Linked DNA regions of Homo sapiens: region 2 is linked to region 1. A link means that fine-mapping ties the variant in region 1 to the expression of a gene that starts in the linked region. Tissue or cell type: testis. Region 1 holds a variant in brackets; the other region holds the start of a gene. All regions are shown on one strand. Distances are from middle to middle.

Region 1 (2,683 bases):
GAAGGTGCTAATGCCTCAAGGAAGAGGACAATCCCAGGGCACGATGTGTATGGGAATAAGAACCTTAAAAATGCTAATGCGTCCCAAGGTGGAGCACAGCTCTCAGCCTGGTGGTGGGGAAACAGCCCCAAAGAGTAGAAGGTCTTGCTTGCTGCTGCCTTCTTGCAGAAAGAGAAGGGAGGACTCAGTATTGGTGTATTATGGTGGGGGAGGGGGACGTGGGCAAGTCCTGGTCTCTGGAAGCTTAGCCTGGGGACAGAGTCAAGTTCCTAAGCATGATATTGGAATGGGAGCTGCCCCCAGGGCTGTGCTTGTGTGTGAAGGTGCCTGGGAGGGGTGGGAGTTTGTGTGTGGGGGTGTCACACAACCTCAGCAGAGCATCAGGGATGACTAACGATGGCCAAACCCAACAGGTATTGTGACAGGGAAGGGGTGGGTGGCTCTGAAGTTATGCTGGTATTCCATTTGGCCTGGGCATGGCCTGGAGCTGACCTGACACTAGAAGGTTGTGGGAATAGTGGGGCTTTAGCAGCCCCAAGGATTGGGCTGCTGCTTCAGAGTGCACCTTACAGATGTTGGAGTGAGTGCTCTAGGGTGCATCTGGGGCCATCCCTTCCCCTCCCTTCCCCTCTCTTTCCCTCCCTTTCCCTCCCTTCCCCTCCTCTCCCCTACCCTCTCCTCCCCTGCCCTCCCCTTCTCCCTTATTCCTTTCTCCTGCCCTCCCCTTCCCTTCTTGCCCCTTCCTCTCTCCTCTCCTCCACTCCCCTTCTCCCCCACTTTCCCTCCCCTGCCCAACTCCTCCCCTCTCCTCCCCTCCCCTGCCAACCTCCTCCCTTCCCCTCCCCTCCCCTCTCCCCTCCCCTCTCCTGCCTTCCTCTTCCCCTCCCCTACCCTGCCCTCCCCCTCCTCTTCTCCCTCCCCTCCCTCCCTTCCCCTCCTCCTCTCCCCTCCCCTTCCCCTTCTCCCTCCTTTCCCCCTTGCTCCTCCCCTCTGCTTATCTGCCCTCCTCCTCCCTCCTTCCCCTCCTCACCCCCTTCCCCCTCCTCGGCCCCTCCCCTCCCCTTCCCTCTCTTCCCCTCCCCTCCCCTCCCCTCCCTCTCCTGAGATTTATCAGCTGCTCAGTCTACCTACCATTCTGCATGGAACTGGTGAGCACATCTCAGTCTCCTGACACCTGCTCAACCTTCAGAGGGCTGAGAAATCAGATTTCTGGCTCCTTGAAGCCAAAGGTCAGACCTAGGCTTGTGGCTCTCACTAATGGGTGCATGCCGTGGAGATGCAGCTAGTCTTTCATGCTCCTCTTCCTCCTTTCCCTCCCACTCCTCCTTTTGGAGTTGTGTGCAAAAGGTTTACTGGGGAGTAATATTGTGAAAAGAAAAAGGGAGAAATGGGAGAATCGGGCAGGGACCTTGAGACCACCATGCAGATCTGACAAAGTCTCTCCTGCCTCTTCTCACAAGGTC[G/A]TTGGCTTCCCTCCAACAAGTGGGACAAGCAGAAAGGATCACTGGGTGCTGTAGAGCTGAGCTGGGAGAGCCTTGTATTAGAACATTTGCTGAGGGGCTCCCTTAGATGTTTTTCCCCCTTAACTCCAACTCTAGCCAGTGGAGGAGAGGGTGAGACTTGCTCCTTGGACCGAAGTCCATAGTGGAGGCATTCAAAGTTCATGCAGTGAACATTACTGAGCACCTGCTATGTGCCAGGCACTGAGCAGGAAGATGGGCTTACAGAAATGAACTTAGGAAGTTTCCAGGTTGAGGCAGAGGTGGAGGAGAGGCATGATGTAATTAATCACATTACAGTATGGTAAATGCCACAGCTAACTTTACACAGGAGCTAAGGGAGTACAAAGGAAGGAGGAGATAACTGCTTCGTGTGTGTTTAGCAGTTACTGCATGTGTGACAGCGTGTTGTAGGAATGTGTGTGTGTGTGGTGAGTGCATTGCATGTGAGTGTGTAGTCTGTGTAAGTATATGTCAGTGTGATGTGATGTGGATATATGGGTGTGTGAGTGGGAGTATCTGTGGATGATTGTGTATTCCAGTTTGCAAGTTGTGCGTGATGCTGTGGTGTGTGGGGGTGTGTGAGAGTGCGTGTGGGGGTGTGTGAGAGTGCATGTGGGTATGTTTCAGGGATGTGTTGTAGGAATGACCTCAGGGACCACAGCAGCCTTTGCAGAAGGTGTAAGTGCCCCAAGGGAAGGGATGGCATCTGCTGTGCTGGAACCCAGGGCCTAACACAGTGCCAGACATAGGAGATGATCAATAACCCTTTTCTGAATGAACAGCTGCCTCCCCTTTTCTGGAGTGCAGGAAACAGAATCTGTTCTGTTACCATCAGCTGTGGCCTTGACTTCCTTTCAGGAGGCTTTGTCCTCTTGGACAAAGTAAGAGAGCCGTATTTTTTTTTTCTTTCAGATGTTAGTAGCTGAAACTTGAGGGTAAAGGGATAAATTCTTGAAACAATTTAAGTCCTAGTAATGTCCTGCCTCTTTAAATGAGCGTCACTCAAGTCAAGGGTTGTAGTTCGTTTTACTTGGCGTCTATACACTTTTTGTACTTTCTAAATCTTCTAAATTTTTTGAGTCTGAGAAAGGAGTTATTAAAAAAGGAATCTGACTTTTCCATGTGCACTTGTGCTGTAATTGTGTAAAAGCTCTTGAGGTGCTGCCTTGGACCCTTGGGTT
Region 2 (2,683 bases), 38 kb after region 1:
CGTGGGAAACTCTGCAGAACCTCCTCTCCTGAGCACTCCTGAGCGAAGAGCCAAGCCAGGGTAAGCCTGTGCATATAAGGCCTCAATTTTAGATTAGATTCCCAAATTTAATTTCCTATTCCTTAATTTAATTCTGCATTTTAGTTTTGTTTTTATTATTTACATGGGTTCCCTTTAATGATTCCAAATTGCTGCTGCCCTCTAGCAGAATTTTGTCTTATGTTAACTTCTTGAAAACTGATCAGCATTGGAGTTTATTCCACGCTGGGTTTAGTTATTTTCTGAAACGAAGCACAATTAAATTAGAATAATGAACATGCTCTTTAGAGGATTAATTCATAATTAGCAGGCCATGTGCTACAGCTCACAGAAGAAAGGGCACAAGGATCGAAAGCTGTTTTTTTCTGCCTAAATATGAAAAGTACATTCTGCAGAGCAGAACAAATCAGCTAATGACATCCAGAGCGCTGGCCAGCCCCAGAGCAGCATGGAGCTGGCACCTTGAGTTAGCGCAATCCCCACCGATGCTGCTGCCTACCTTTCCTCCCCGAGAAGGCTGGCAGCGGGCAATTTGCCTGGCTCTTCTCTCCTCAGCACAGCTGATAGAAGCCACTGTGGACCTCCTAAATTCTACCCCCAGGAAGCCCCAAACTCCACAGCCTGTGGCTTCACAAGCTTCATCCTCAGAGCTTCCTACAGCCCATTCACTCATTCATTCTTTCATCCAAGGAATGTTTTACTAGCTCCTGCTATACACCAGGCATCCATGGGATGGCCCACCCTCGGGATACATCAGGGAAGAAAACATACAAAGACCCCTACCCTTTTGGAAGTTATACTTGAGCAGGCAGAGACAGACAATAAATGGTAAAAATAATAAGTAAATTATGTATTATGTTAGAAGGTGATGAGTGCTAAAGAGGAAGGGGGGTTGAGAGTGGTGTGTGTGTGTGTGTGTGTGTGTGTGTGTGCGCGCGTGCCTGTGTGCTTTGCAGTTTTAAATAGGATGGGTCATGGTAGGCTTATGGGGAAGGTTTCAATTGAGCGAAGACTTGAAGGAAGTGAGAAAGTGAGTCACTTTCAAGCAAGTCACCCAGGTCAAGCCTGTTCTAGAAGAAACAACTATAGCAAAAGCCCTAAGGTTGGAGTGTGGCTGGTGAGTTCGGGAAGGATGGGGCCAGTGGGGGCTGAATGGAGGGAGTGAGTGGGAGATGAGGGGGACCCCATCAAGTGGGGCCTTGGGTTTTTCTCCGAGAGAACTGAAAGTCAGGGCAGGGTTCTGAGCACAGGCAGGACGTGGTCTTTTACTAAAGGATCTCTGGCTGCTGGCTGAGAACAGACTTTACAGGGTCAGGTAGATGGAAGGATGGAAGGTGGGAGACCTGTCAGAAGGCTCACAGCTTAGGCCTCTGAAACTCCAGCCCCAGGTTTTCCCATACCATGTTCTCTGGGCCTGCCAAAGTGCTGAGCTCAGGCCTCAGAACCAGGCACAGAGGCTTAGAGTCTCCTGCAGTCCCCTTTCTCCCAGAAGGACCAGTATATTTATTTTTTTATTTTTTTTATTTTTTAAACAGCCAGAGCTCACACATGGTGAGGATGTCCAGACCATTATTCCTCGATTGGGCCTGGAGACCCCTCTGCAGCCCCTCCCAATCTCTCCCACTGACCTACGGACCAGAAGGCTGGATTTTGCAATGGAAGGGAACTTGCAGGCAGCAGACAGCTCTGCACTGTCCCTTTGATTTTCCTCAGGCACCTCTGAGAGGGAGACACACTCTCAGCCAAGTACCCAACAAGGGACATGAGAAGGCTTCTGCTGTGCAGCTGCCAGAGAAACAGGGGACAGATCAAAGCAGGAGAGGACCAACATCTGCGGTAACCAAAGCAAGGACAAGGTACAAACACATTGAATGAATAAATAAGCAGATGAATGACTGATGGGTGGGGGGAATGAATGATTAATGCATAAATGAATGATTGATGAATAAACAAATGTATAGCCTGGAGCTGGCTCCTGCTCCCTGCTCTTTGGGTATCTTCTCTACTGGGAACCGAAGATTAAAGATGCTCCCGTGACCTTCACCTCTGGAATTCCCTGCTGGAGTTGGGATTACACCTGCTTCTGAGCCCAGAGGTTGGGGAGGCTTTGGCTTAGGATCGGTGGCCCAAGGCTGCAGAGATGTGCTGGCGGAAGGAGGCTGGAAGCAACTGGGGCTGGTCTGGAAGACCCCTGGGCAGCTTGTAGGTTCTGAGTGCGGAGAACTCCAAGGATCTGAGAGGAGAGAAGGGTGTGTTGGGAAGAGGGGAAAAGGAGTGGTTTAGTTTTTCCTTCCTGGTTCTACACGGGACATTCTGCAGATGCTGGGCCTTGGGTTGGTCTCATTCTAGGGCCTGTAAAGATACAGAAGTCTGTCTCAATGGAGCATTTGACTGTATTATCCCAAAAGGCAGGAAGATTTCGGTAATCGAAATTGTCAGAAGCTTCCCCAAAAGGGGCAGGCTGGTGAAGACTTTAGCTCAGGCCCAGGCACTGGCACCACCCAGACGCTTGATGTGCCCCCACTTCCAGAAGTTTGTCTTATAGTGTGGCCAGATCCCCATGCCTCTGGGGGAGAAGTACCCTACTGGGGGAGGGTTTGAGGAAGCAATGTTTAAAGACCCTGGGTCACATGGCTTCACTTCA

The links. PIP is the estimated chance that this variant, and not a neighbour inherited with it, causes the effect.
Region 2: LINC02898 starts here. The variant in region 1 is the best candidate, but not a certain one, in a credible set for the expression of LINC02898 in testis (GTEx, PIP 0.78).

The regions. Positions count from the first base shown.
Region 1 is chr2:41,990,186-41,992,868 of GRCh38, reverse strand. No RefSeq gene overlaps it. Among named protein-coding and RNA genes, the nearest start is that of LINC02898, 38 kb to the right of the region's middle. RefSeq lists a silencer at 2,166-2,460. The variant G/A (reference allele first, on the strand shown) is at 1,464.
Region 2 is chr2:41,952,200-41,954,882 of GRCh38, reverse strand. It overlaps LINC02898 (long intergenic non-protein coding RNA 2898), which reads left to right and starts at 1,077. Exons shown (of 4, transcript NR_161189.1): 1 at 1,077-1,156; 2 at 1,575-1,895. LOC124905996 (a long non-coding RNA gene) reads right to left here. Exons shown (of 3, transcript XR_007086296.1): 3 at 1,834-2,272. RefSeq lists an enhancer at 1,202-1,341.